4 separate regions of the Homo sapiens genome follow, and all the other regions are reported to be linked to region 3. The links are microRNA targets in miRTarBase. Many come from high-throughput screens and were not tested one by one. Region 3 holds a microRNA gene; each other region holds the end of a gene's coding sequence.

Evidence for each region. The annotated mature microRNA hsa-miR-4287 reads UCUCCCUUGAGGGCACUUU and lies in region 3 at 1,218-1,236, opposite strand. An mRNA with a match to its seed (bases 2 to 7 or 8) in the 3' UTR can be bound and repressed. Matches are read on the target gene's strand: a 7mer-m8 pairs with bases 2 to 8, a 7mer-A1 pairs with bases 2 to 7 and ends in A, and an 8mer does both.
Region 1: miRTarBase lists VTI1A as a target of hsa-miR-4287. The part of its 3' UTR that is shown has no 7-base or 8-base seed match.
Region 2: the mRNA of TMEM74B is a reported target of hsa-miR-4287. Seed matches in the 3' UTR shown: 7mer-A1 at 510-516.
Region 4: the mRNA of LRIG1 is a reported target of hsa-miR-4287. Seed matches in the 3' UTR shown: 7mer-m8 at 1,635-1,641.

The regions. Positions count from the first base shown.
Region 1 is chr10:112,814,850-112,817,849 of GRCh38, forward strand. VTI1A (vesicle transport through interaction with t-SNAREs 1A) reads left to right here. Exons shown (of 8, transcript NM_145206.4): 8 at 441-3,000. The coding sequence ends at 534. Among named protein-coding and RNA genes, the nearest start is that of LINC02935, 75 kb to the right of the region's middle.
Region 2 is chr20:1,178,089-1,181,214 of GRCh38, reverse strand. It overlaps TMEM74B (transmembrane protein 74B), which reads left to right. Exons shown (of 3, transcript NM_001304748.2): 3 at 1-645. The coding sequence ends at 367. It overlaps LOC124904855 (a long non-coding RNA gene), which reads right to left. Exons shown (of 2, transcript XR_007067486.1): 2 at 1,263-3,126. Among named protein-coding and RNA genes, the nearest start is that of TMEM74B, 5.3 kb to the left of the region's middle.
Region 3 is chr8:27,884,871-27,887,996 of GRCh38, forward strand. MIR4287 (microRNA 4287) reads right to left here and starts at 1,246; the gene lies at 1,169-1,246. All of the region lies in intron 7 of SCARA5 (scavenger receptor class A member 5), which reads right to left.
Region 4 is chr3:66,377,599-66,380,724 of GRCh38, reverse strand. It overlaps LRIG1 (leucine rich repeats and immunoglobulin like domains 1), which reads left to right. Exons shown (of 19, transcript NM_015541.3): 18 at 1-148; 19 at 236-1,928. The coding sequence ends at 462. It overlaps SLC25A26 (solute carrier family 25 member 26), which reads right to left. Exons shown (of 10, transcript NM_001379210.1): 10 at 1,802-3,035. The coding sequence ends at 2,918. Among named protein-coding and RNA genes, the nearest start is that of LRIG1, 120 kb to the left of the region's middle.

The DNA.
Region 1 (3,000 bases), not on the chromosome of region 3:
CAGGTAAGTACATTGCTGACATGTGTTTCCTTGGAGTATTTTACTTTAACAGGAAACACTGCAAAAAATGAGGCTTGTCTCGCCTTTTAAATTAGAAAGAGAAGCTCGCAAGGGGCCCTTGATCACTTAAAGAGGCTACATGATTTTCTGAGCCTCGAAAGCCATTTGATTCGCCTTAGCTTTGCAGTAAGCATTTCTCGGAGGGCAGCGTGACAATCATGTGGAGCCTTTCGTTTCCTCGTGGATCGTTTGTAGAACCAGAAAGCTGCGTGATGTCTCTTTCGCGCGCGCACACACACACACACACACACACACACACACACGCTCCCCACCCCCACCTGCAAAGCTGCCGTTTGATTAGCCAACCTGGCCTCGGACGGCGTTTGTGGGAAGGCCTTCCACTTATCTGTGTGTGTTTTTTCTCCTTTGCTGTCTCCTAGAATCATCCAGAACCGCATCCTGCTCGTCATCCTAGGGATCATCGTGGTCATCACCATCCTGATGGCGATCACTTTTTCTGTCAGAAGACACTGATGTATCTGCTCTCCCTTGATAAACAGCAACAACAGCTTGTTCTGAGTAATTAAGACAAAATGGTCACATGAATCATTCTGTTGCGCTGACAGGCCCCAGGTGACCCTCTCTCTCCCTCACCGCCGTTGGGCTGAAGTGCAAAGAGTGTAAAAATATTTTCTATTCCTGTTTGCATGTGGGTTGGTTTCCTTTTCGAGGTTTGTCTTCACCCAGATTCGTTTTTTAGAGGGGAAGGTGAATGTTTATTTACCTTTTTGCTAATGTCATCAACTAGCCAAAATAGCCCCAGTGACACTCCTAGCCCTCTGGACGTGTCAAGGGCCGTGGTTTGGGAGAGGACATGATGAGTCAGTCACGAGAGCTTCTGTTTGTCACCCGCCTCTTGTTGCTGAAAAGCTCTTCTGTGATGTCTGAGGATAAAAATGCAGCAAAAAGCAGGGGATGGAGTCAGTGACCCCGTCCAGCAAGCCAGCCCTGTTCCTACACAGGCCTCATGAATATAGTCATCAACCTGCCTGAGTGCTTTCATTGTAAAGGTCGGTATTTAATGTCGGTTGTACAGGAAATTGACTTAGCACTTTCCCTGTTTTTCTATTGCATAATTTTTTTTTTAACCCAAAGATATTTTTTTTGCTGAGCCTGCCCAGTATTCACTGTTCACAACTTTGATTACTGGCTACAAGAAATATTTTCTTGCCTTCCCCAAATCCCATACTCCCCAGAATCTGCTGGCAAAGTGAGCCCTGGTACAGGATTTAATTGTGACCTCGTCTTCCCTGACCTGTGTAAGCATCTCTGTATCCTTTCGGTTTTAATATCTGCACTGCCAAAAGCAGTCCTCATACTTGCAAAAGGTCTGACAAGGTTCTCTCCACATACATTCCAGTATGTAAAGAGACCATGAATATTTCAGTAAGAGCAAGAACATGACTCCATCAGTGTGAAATTTCAAATGTGATTATAAATATGGGAGAGTCCTATAGGAGGGTCCACCAGAGATAAACTTCACGGAAAACGTTCCCTAACCTCCTTTAAAAGAATAGAGGATGGCAGATTGTTCCAAAAGGAATGGCTTGGGTTTTTAACTAACAAATGTTAGCAAGCCTTTCTTGAATTCACTATGTATTCAAACTTCTAATATGCTTTGTGATTTTTTTCTTTCATTTCTTTCTGTCTGAGGTAACCAGGAATTGCGTTCAAAATGAGCTCATTTGTGATCAGGCTTAAAAGTTGCCCAAGCTGAGGTCGTTTCCCCCCAGTCACAAAGCAGAATGTTTTTCTCAAGACTTCATAGGCACTTACTGGTCCGTACTATCTTTGGAATATAATTAGAAGCTTTGAATCCTTGAAAAGCAAACCTGTTCTCTTCATCAAAAATGCTAACCACCTGTGCCCGTGGATCAATATCACCTGGATGTAGTGCTTGATATTTTTCCCAACTCAGAAGAAAACCATTATGGTTTAGAGAGGAAATGCAGAATGGCAGAATCCACCAGAGAAATTGCACTTATCGAAACAGGCCAAGGCCTGCATGTGTTCGGATAAATCATTTAGTATTGTGTAAATAAAGCTGCAGCCTTTACTTCGGAGGGATGGTGTGGGATTTTGGCCGAGGGAAGCAGGACAGAGAAGGAGCAGGAAGCTATGCTAATTTTCCTGTCAGCTTAAGGGATCCGTCTCAGCAAGAATCTTGTATTCTGATAACGGAATGCTGTACGTGCTGACCACATCTAAGAACCATTAAAAAGCAAGGAAACAAACAAACAACCCTTTTCTCATTCCGACACACGAATAGTCATCGAGTATTACACCAGCCCCTCTGGTGGCTTCCTTCAAAACTGTTGATCTTAGCTAAAGTGTATAACCAGTTACCAGCTGCACTTCGCACGGCCATCCCGTCCACAATGCAGCAGACTCTTCCCAAGGCCACCTAGCAAGCAAGGTTGATCGGATCATCTAAACTGGCCGCCTCCTGAATATTTCACTGAATCCTGGCGTTCATGTTGAAGCAGACAAAATGAGAAAGGAGGAGGGCATTGCTCACCTCTCAATAGCTTTTTTCGTTCAAGTTCTATGTCTTTATCAGCTCTTGCCTGTGATTTTACCCCAATTCAACCTTGGGAGTGGGAAGAATATGAACAGATAACCCTTGGCCTAACAGCTCCATCAAACCTCCTTGAGAGCAACTACCTAGGCCAGGCTAGTGAGTGCTTTGTGAGGAAGCTGGTCAGAAGGTTCCCTCAACTCCTTCCTGGTCCTCCTGGACACTGCAGAAAAGACTTAGGGGATCCCCAGCAGAGGCCAATTGCTCTCCTTCCTTCCCTGCCCCACCAGGAAAGGAATAACGTCCACAGACTTGAAGCAGATAGTGAAGTAGATCTGTGAGAGGTTCTAGGTACTTAGTGTGTAGACTTTGACGAATATTTCTCAAGTTGGGAGCCCTTGTTAAAAATGATGTTTAAGGGA
Region 2 (3,126 bases), not on the chromosome of region 3:
TCTGGTGGTGACAGCATACGCCATCCCCCGTGAGGCTCGAGTCAATCCGGACACAGTGACAGCGCGGGAGATGGAACGACTGGAGATGTACTACGCCCGCCTAGGCTCCCACCTGGACAGGTGCATCATCGCAGGCCTCGGGCTGCTCACGGTGGGCGGCATGCTCTTGTCGGTGCTGCTCATGGTCTCCCTGTGCAAGGGCGAGCTGTACCGCCGGAGGACCTTCGTCCCCGGCAAGGGCTCCAGGAAGACCTACGGCTCCATTAACCTGCGCATGAGACAGCTCAATGGGGATGGGGGCCAGGCCCTGGTGGAGAATGAAGTTGTCCAGGTCTCAGAGACTAGCCACACCCTCCAGAGGTCTTAAGAACTAGCCCACCTTATCTGGCTGCTTTAGCTCCAGTGCTACAAGGTCCACCCCCTGCTCCCGCCCACCTGACCCCTGCCAAGGCCCTGGGGTTTTAAACTGAGCTCACATAGGGCCTTGTGGAAGAAGTACTGGGTGCTGGAGGGAGAGCTCGGGGCCCAGCCCATGCCCCACACGGGCAAGCAGCCCACTGATCTGTTTTGTAGCTGAGGTTTTGCATACGGTTTTGTTTGGAGGATGGCTTCTGCTGCTAAAAATACAAAAGTTTGGAAACCGCTGCTCTTGGAGGATGAGGTTTCTTGGCATTTCTCAAGATTGGGAGCTGTTTGAAAGGTTGCCCATCCTCTTCCCTCATGCCTTGGGGAGTGAGGGACCTCTGCTGTCCTTATTGGCTGAGTGAGGGTGTTGATTGGCCGTGGAGGGGTCCCTTTCAGCCCTGATCATCTAAGGTGGGGGAGGTGGCTTCATGATGAGGGGAGAAGTCAGCACCAGAGTGACCCCCAGTACCCCCACTGACTAAACTGTGATCCTACCCTCACCAGGCCTCAGTTGCCCTGCCTTCAAGTGAGGGGGTTGGACTGGATGACCCCTCAGGTCCCTCTAGTTCTTCCCTGGGAATGGGAACCCAGTCTCTATCTCCAGTCACCCCTCCAGGGCAGGAAGGCATCCACCAGGCACTAACCATTCTCCCTGCCATTTTCTGGCCTGACCTCAGGGACCACCACAGCCAGCAGCTCTCATGGTCTCAGGGAAGAGCTCCCTGGTGGGGTTGGGTTCAGTTCAAAGTTTGCTACAGCCTGGTTTTGGTCTTGGGGTCTAATTTCCTGCAGTGACACATTTTTACAAAGCCAAGTGCACAATATTACCCAGTTCTCTGGGCAAGAAGGATCTTTTACACAGGAAAGGGTGAGGGCTTTATTGTATTTCTGTGGGCATGATGCAGGCCTTGATCACCTTCTCCTCCATAGTATGTCTCTTGCTCCTGACCTTATTTGGATAACAGGAAAAAAAAAAATTTATGCTGAATTTGTAACCTTAGTCTCCCTCATATAGTAGTAAAGTGAAGCCACAGTTTATTTGGGGGAGAAATCAGGCACATTTGGGTGGCCTGGACACGCTGGCCACATTGCCATTTGTGTTTTTCTTATGAAATGTTTCTAGGTTCCTGCAGACTTTCTTTAAACTCTTGGTAAGGAAAGGAAGTAGGCCCTGGGGCAAGGAGATACAGGTGTTTGAGGACTGTGGGGAGGCATCCTTCAGTCTGAATGGACCCAGAGGGCTTTGAGAGCACATGCCTTCTAAGCCACTGGTGTAGAGACCCTACAGGAGCCATTTTAGTGAATCCCCTGCCCAATGTAGGTCCTACTTACTCCATCTCAGTTGGCCACATGGGCCGAGGATCCTGTTCCTTGGGGGTGGGAGGGTGGGGGGGCATGGGGTCTGTAGTGTAGAGAGGCCCTGATTAGCTGTAACTTGAGCCTTCAGTCCAGTGAGTTAAACATCTGGGGAGTGTAATATCACAGCTTCTATGACAGATCAAATATCTGCTCCTACTGGTAGGTTTTACCAAGAGCAGAGAGCTAGAGGAAGACTGGAAAGGACAAGGGTTGTTTAGCTTGGCTTCCCAGGTTTTTGTTGTGGTATTGAAGGGGTATGGTGTGGAAAGAGCAAAGCTCCAAGATGGTAAAAGATTCACAAGTCCTAGGCTTCCACTGTTGTGTCGCTTTCTCCCAGGCTCCAAGTAGGCACAGCCACAGAACGTGGCATGAGCTGTTCTAAGTAAACTACATAGGATTGGACATCCCAAATCATGGGCTAAGGCTTTTCAATCCATAATGATAATTAAAAAAATATCAACCAAGTCATATGGATTACTGTGATGGTGGCAGACTCATTTGGATACTAAACCTGTTGAGTGAATGCATCTGGGACCATCAGTTCATATCAGTTTAAATGCAATGAGTTTATTTAGGGGAGAAATTGGGCATATTTGGGTGGCCTGGACATGCTGGCCGCACTACCATTTGTTTTTTTCTTACGAAATGTTTGATGTTAATCATCAAACAGATTTAGGGGCTAAATCTGTTTGATGATTAAATCCCAGGAGTCTCAGGTTTTTCTAAGCCAGAGAAGCCTGCTTTGCATTCTAATGTTGAAAGTCCTTTAGAAAATGTGTATAATGGACTGAGGCGTTATTACCTTGTCAGTGAATTAAGAAAACTTAAGAGATGACAAAAGCATTTCCCCATGATTACAGCTGAGATCTGCCAGCTGATGGATCAGAAACAGGTTTAAGGAGGAGGTGATTAGGAACACGGAGTAGGATGCTGAGAACTTTCTTTGCAGGCATTCCAGGGGCCTCTGTGGTTACTGGAATGTGCCTCTCCTCCAGGAACTGCCTCTCCCACCTAACCTGCTCCTAGGGCCCCAAACCTTGCTTTTCCTGGTGCATCAGAACAGATACCGATTTTGGAGTTGGTAAGACTAAAGTTGGAATCCAGGCTCTGCCACTTACTGGCTGTGTGACCTTGGGCAAGTTACTCCACCTCTCTGAGTCGGGATTTCTCTATCTGTGAAGTGGGATTAATGAAAGCTCTGCCTCAGGGTGGTGGTGCAGATTACAGATAAAATGGAGAACTGCATAGTATGAGGTCCAGGGATGATGATGCTCTCCTTCCCCACCTCAACTGGGGATAGCTGGATTAGGCCTCAAACGCTGTGGTCAACCCTTCTGCCTTTCTTCTATCACACCTCACATT
Region 3 (3,126 bases):
TAAGAGCATAGATGGGAACAGAAGCACAGGGAGTACAGAGTGAGGCAGGCACTATTGTGGGCAAGTGAACAAAGGAGTGGAGAGTGAGGGCAGGCGCCATCTTGGACAAGTGGAGGAGGGAGGAAATGAGAGACAGGGCAGGCACCATCTTGGCCGGGTGGACAAGGAAGGAAATGAGAGAGAGGGCAGACACCATCTTGGCCGAGTGGACAAGGAAGGAAATGAGAGAGAGGGCAGGCACCATCTTGGACAGGTGGACAAGGGAGGGAATGAGAGGGCAGGTACTGTCTTGGACAAGTGAACAAGGAAGAGGGTGGGGAGTGAGAGCAGGTGCCATTTTGGACGAGTAGAGAAGGAAGGCCTTGAGTGGAGACCTGAATGAGCTGAGGAAGGACGTGGACTCCCCCACCTCAGAAAACTCCTTTCTGTACTCTGGCCTAAGCTTTCCTTGTCTTTTAGATCTCAGCTTAGATGCCTCTTCTCCTTCCCTGGTCCCCACACCCAACAGGGCCCCTTCTAGGTACATGCTTATAGCTTTGTGTCATAATTGCTATTGCTATTTACTCTCTTAGGACACTGTGAGCCTTCTGAGGATCACGTGACCTGGTACAGGGCCCGGTGCACTGAGATACCCAGCCTGTGCAAAGGGAAGGCATGCATGAATGGAGGGACTCATTAATATGGACCCAGATGGGCAGGTGCTGGCTGGAGGGCATGGCTCCCCAGAGTCCAGGGCTTTGGTGGCAACCTGAATGGAGAATCCAACATCAGGGCCCCAAATCTCCAGCATCCTCTTTATTACATCACAACACTTCTAATCACATACTTGCTGCCTTCTCTACTTGAGATGACTCTGGATTCTGGACCCAGAGCTCAGGCTGTTACAATGACCGTACATCTCAAGTGAGAGAATGGGGACATGGCTGTCAGATGATCATGGTGGGTGCAATGGGAAGTCTGGAAAATGTCATTTGGATGCTGAAATACTGAAATTCCCAAGAGGTTTCAATGTATATAGAAGTGATAGAAGAATATTTGGAAACAAGACACCTTCAAAAAATTGAAAACATATGATAACCATAATCACGGGATGCAAAGCATCAATTTCAAGGATGTCTCTGGCCCATGGCCCATGCTTACCATGCATTGAGCAAAGTCATGGCCTGCAGGGCTCCTATGGTCTCCCCAGTAGGGACCACATTGATCTCAGGAACTGAAAAGTGCCCTCAAGGGAGAAAAAGAACTAGAGAGCACCTGGGCGAGGCTGCACAAGGCACCACTCCACCCAGACCCCAGTGTCGGTTCATTAAGCATGGAGGCCTGTTCCTCACCACCTGTCCCCAGATCCCCTAGACTCAGGGCTTCCCCCCATGGTGGAGGGCCGCCTGCCCACAGGGTCAACAGATGCTGCCTGCCCCAGCAGGGTCAACACAAATCTGAAAGCCACACCTTCTCCCCTGGACTCACCCAAATCAGAGGCCACATTTTGTTGTAGCTCCACTTCACAGAGCATGGCCCTAAGCTGTGGATTTTGCATCCTTTTCTCCCCACCCAACAAAATCTCAGCTCTGTTACCACCTCTCTGGGAAACCACAGGCTGAGGTCTGACTTGCTTATGATGTAGGCTGCCCTGATTCAGGAACTCAGAGTCTAAATTCAGAAACTTGTGTCTCTGGCCTCCTTTACCCCTGAAGAGGTATAGGGGAGGCAGGCAGGCAGGAGCCTTTCCCAGAGCTGAGCAATGAGGCCACCTCCAGCAACACACTTGGGGAATCACCAACGCCCTCCAACAGTGACTACCCTCTAGCCTGAGAAGGACGTCATCATTTAAGAGGTTTGGGTTTCTGTGGGCAGAGGGTTTAAATGCTGCTTTTTCCCGGCAGTTTCTGCCCCAGGTCAAAGCTTTCCCACCAAGCCACCAACCACCACTGGGAAATGCTCTTGCCCCACAATGTGTCAGCCCCGACTTAATCAGAAGTGGTGACTGAGAGGCAGCCTCAGCCTGGTCCGTGACTTCCCCAAGACTCTTCCTGTCAGTCCAGGGAGTTTTTTCCTCAGATGCCCCCCAGGAGGGTCCCTGCAGGGGGAACGGGGCTACTGGAGTCAGGGAGATGCCTCTCTCTGCACGTGGCAGTGGAGGAAAATGGGAGACAGGGATTCTTGATTGTGTGAAATTCAGAGACTCCTAGGCTCCAAAGCAAGAGCAGATGCTCCAGGTAGAGGGCAAAGGGCAAGAGAGCTGGTGATGAGCAATGGGACCCCAGGCTTTCGAGGTTGCAGCCACGTCCCCTAGTAACTGCCCTTCAATGACTGCGAGGCACCTTCACCTCCTCCTTGGCATCATACCACATTGAGCCCTGGAAAACCCTTCCTGAGCAAATGAGGATCAGCAACCCGGAAGAAAACCCTGCCCCATACCACTCCCGTGTGGGTATCTGATTTGCACCCCTCAGGTGAGGGCGTTAGGTGCAGAGACTATCACACTTTTCCTCTTGTTCTGGATCCCTAACCTGCAGACTGGGGTCTACCTGTCCATGCCTTCATGGTTTGCAAGTTAAGAGGATGGTACTGGCTACAAGGCTGGTCCCTACCAGCTCTGTGCAGGAATGGCACCGGCACATAGCATCACTTGGCTGGAAAACCCAAGCTGAAGGGAAACACCAAGAGCTATTCCTTACTAAAAACAAGGAGAGGCTGTTCTTGACAGCTTATTCCAATCCCCATCCCACAAGGCTTTGGCAGAGCTTTTTCTTGTAATGCCCACCCCTGCCCCCCATAGCAGAGACACCCAGATATCCACAGGGCTCATCTCTGTTCATCTTTTCCCTGCTTCCCCAGAACTGGGGACCACAAGCCCGAGATGGAGCAGGGACTTAGGGGCTGCTAGGCCCCCAAACATGGAAATAAAAGAAAATCTTGAGTATCTTCAAGGGAAATTCTAGGCTAGCCCCAAGAAGTAAATGAGCAACTTGGTAAGAAAGAAAGAAATAGTAGCTTAAAGCAATAGTCAAAGAAGTTAGAGTCAACCTCTGATGACTCTCTATAGAAACTAAAGAGAACATCTTAACATATGTCCCTGAGGTGTTTTTCAGAAACCCAGCTGGATGTTTTTCAGAAACCCAGAAC
Region 4 (3,126 bases), not on the chromosome of region 3:
AGTGACCAAGAGCATTCTCCACATCACCAGTGCAGCAGGACTGCCGCTGGGTCCTGCCCCGAGTGCCAAGGGTCGCTCTACCCCAGTAACCACGATAGAATGCTGACGGCTGTGAAGAAAAAGCCAATGGCATCTCTAGATGGGAAAGGTAACTTTTGACTGTCTTCTAACAGGTGGGTTGGGAGCTGCTTAAACGGTCAAGTGGGGGTCTGACAGGTTCGTTCTTTCCTTGTAGGGGATTCTTCCTGGACTTTAGCAAGGTTGTATCACCCGGACTCCACAGAGCTACAGCCTGCATCTTCATTAACTTCAGGCAGTCCAGAGCGCGCGGAAGCCCAGTACTTGCTTGTTTCCAATGGCCACCTCCCCAAAGCATGTGACGCCAGTCCCGAGTCCACGCCACTGACAGGACAGCTCCCCGGGAAACAGAGGGTGCCACTGCTGTTGGCACCAAAAAGCTAGGTTTTGTCTACCTCAGTTCTTGTCATACCAATCTCTACGGGAAAGAGAGGTAGGAGAGGCTGCGAGGAAGCTTGGGTTCAAGCGTCACTCATCTGTACATAGTTGTAACTCCCATGTGGAGTATCAGTCGCTCACAGGACTTGGATCTGAAGCACAGTAAACGCAAGAGGGGATTTGTGTACAAAAGGCAAAAAAAGTATTTGATATCATTGTACATAAGAGTTTTCAGAGATTTCATATATATCTTTTACAGAGGCTATTTTAATCTTTAGTGCATGGTTAACAGAAAAAAATTATACAATTTTGACAATATTATTTTTCGTATCAGGTTGCTGTTTAATTTTGGAGGGGGTGGGGAAATAGTTCTGGTGCCTTAACGCATGGCTGGAATTTATAGAGGCTACAACCACATTTGTTCACAGGAGTTTTTGGTGCGGGGTGGGAAGGATGGAAGGCCTTGGATTTATATTGCACTTCATAGACCCCTAGGCTGCTGTGCGGTGGGACTCCACATGCGCCGGAAGGAGCTTCAGGTGAGCACTGCTCATGTGTGGATGCCCCTGCAACAGGCTTCCCTGTCTGTAGAGCCAGGGGTGCAAGTGCCATCCACACTTGCAGTGAATGGCTTTTCCTTTTAGGTTTAAGTCCTGTCTGTCTGTAAGGCGTAGAATCTGTCCGTCTGTAAGGCGTAGAATGAGGGTTGTTAATCCATCACAAGCAAAAGGTCAGAACAGTTAAACACTGCCTTTCCTCCTCCTCTTATTTTATGATAAAAGCAAATGTGGCCTTCTCAGTATCATTCGATTGCTATTTGAGACTTTTAAATTAAGGTAAAGGCTGCTGGTGTTGGTACCTGTGGATTTTTCTATACTGATGTTTTCGTTTTGCCAATATAATGAGTATTACATTGGCCTTGGGGGACAGAAAGGAGGAAGTTCTGACTTTTCAGGGCTACCTTATTTCTACTAAGGACCCAGAGCAGGCCTGTCCATGCCATTCCTTCGCACAGATGAAACTGAGCTGGGACTGGAAAGGACAGCCCTTGACCTGGGTTCTGGGTATAATTTGCACTTTTGAGACTGGTAGCTAACCATCTTATGAGTGCCAATGTGTCATTTAGTAAAACTTAAATAGAAACAAGGTCCTTCAAATGTTCCTTTGGCCAAAAGCTGAAGGGAGTTACTGAGAAAATAGTTAACAATTACTGTCAGGTGTCATCACTGTTCAAAAGGTAAGCACATTTAGAATTTTGTTCTTGACAGTTAACTGACTAATCTTACTTCCACAAAATATGTGAATTTGCTGCTTCTGAGAGGCAATGTGAAAGAGGGAGTATTACTTTTATGTACAAAGTTATTTATTTATAGAAATTTTGGTACAGTGTACATTGAAAACCATGTAAAATATTGAAGTGTCTAACAAATGGCATTGAAGTGTCTTTAATAAAGGTTCATTTATAAATGTCAGTATAGTTGGTGGTCCTTCTTTTACAAACGCAGTCATTCTGCCTTTAATTATCTTCCCCCAAAAAAGAAAAAAAAAATAGGCGAAGCAAAATCACATACTGTTTGTTTGCTCCAGGGCAGACAACACTGCTAGATTCCTGACATTTTGTTTTGAATTTTTCTACACCTGGAGCTTGTTAGTCAAGGTCTAAAATCCCTAAGTGTGGTGACCTTTCCATTTCATCCTGCCTTTTCAAAGCTGGCCCAGGCCCTCCTTTCAGTCTGACATGAGAATGGCGAGAATGGCTCACCCACCGTGCCCTCCTGCACGAAGCCAGCTGGGCCCACCTAGTCACTTGAGTTGCAGCTGCTTTCTCTCACACACCACAGGGGGCGCTGGACACATCTCTGTAAAATAATACAATTGTGCGTTTTTATGGGTGAAATCTGAGGGTAATTAAAACCAGCAGCCTAGTTACCCAGAAAGAGTGCTTGCTATGCACCTGTAGTTCAATCTTTCTTTCTTTTTCAACAAAGCCTACCCTTACACAACAGGAATTAACTAGGGGGAGAAACACCCACATACACAACTCTTCCCCAAGTCTCCTTTTCCCAAACAAACAAACAAGCTATTCTTTTAGAATTATAACCATCTTGCCTTCTGCTGAATCCACCATCAGGTGGCAGGAAATGAAAGATCAGATACAGATCAAATGAAAGCTCTAAAAGGCCTGGCCTCAGCATTACCAAACTTATTTATTAAGAGGTTCTGAGGAAATTGTTCAGAGTACCGCCACAGACCCCGTTTTCTTCTCTTAGCTCTCTGGCATACAGGCCAATGACTTCATACCAGCCAGCCTATACCACGGATGGCACAATCTCCATGCCGGTATCTTAGCACAACTGGTCTTCAGCACTGGGGCCTATAGTTCAGACAGCTGCTCAGCGGAAGAGGGTTTGCACTGCAGGCCCCTCTCTTGACAGAAGTGGAGGTGAGGCTTGTCTCTGCTTCAAGGACTCTTTCTGCCAACTTCCAACAGCAAGCTGTGCGTTCGGTCATAAGCCCCCAGAAAGATGAAACCTCCCAGACTGATGGCTGCCATTCGAGGGAAGACACCTGCAAATAATCTAGGGGAAAAAACAGGATTTTTAATGTTGTGCGTATTTTAAAAAAAGGTTAAATTCCAATACCCACAGCTTGCTCAGCTCAATACACCAT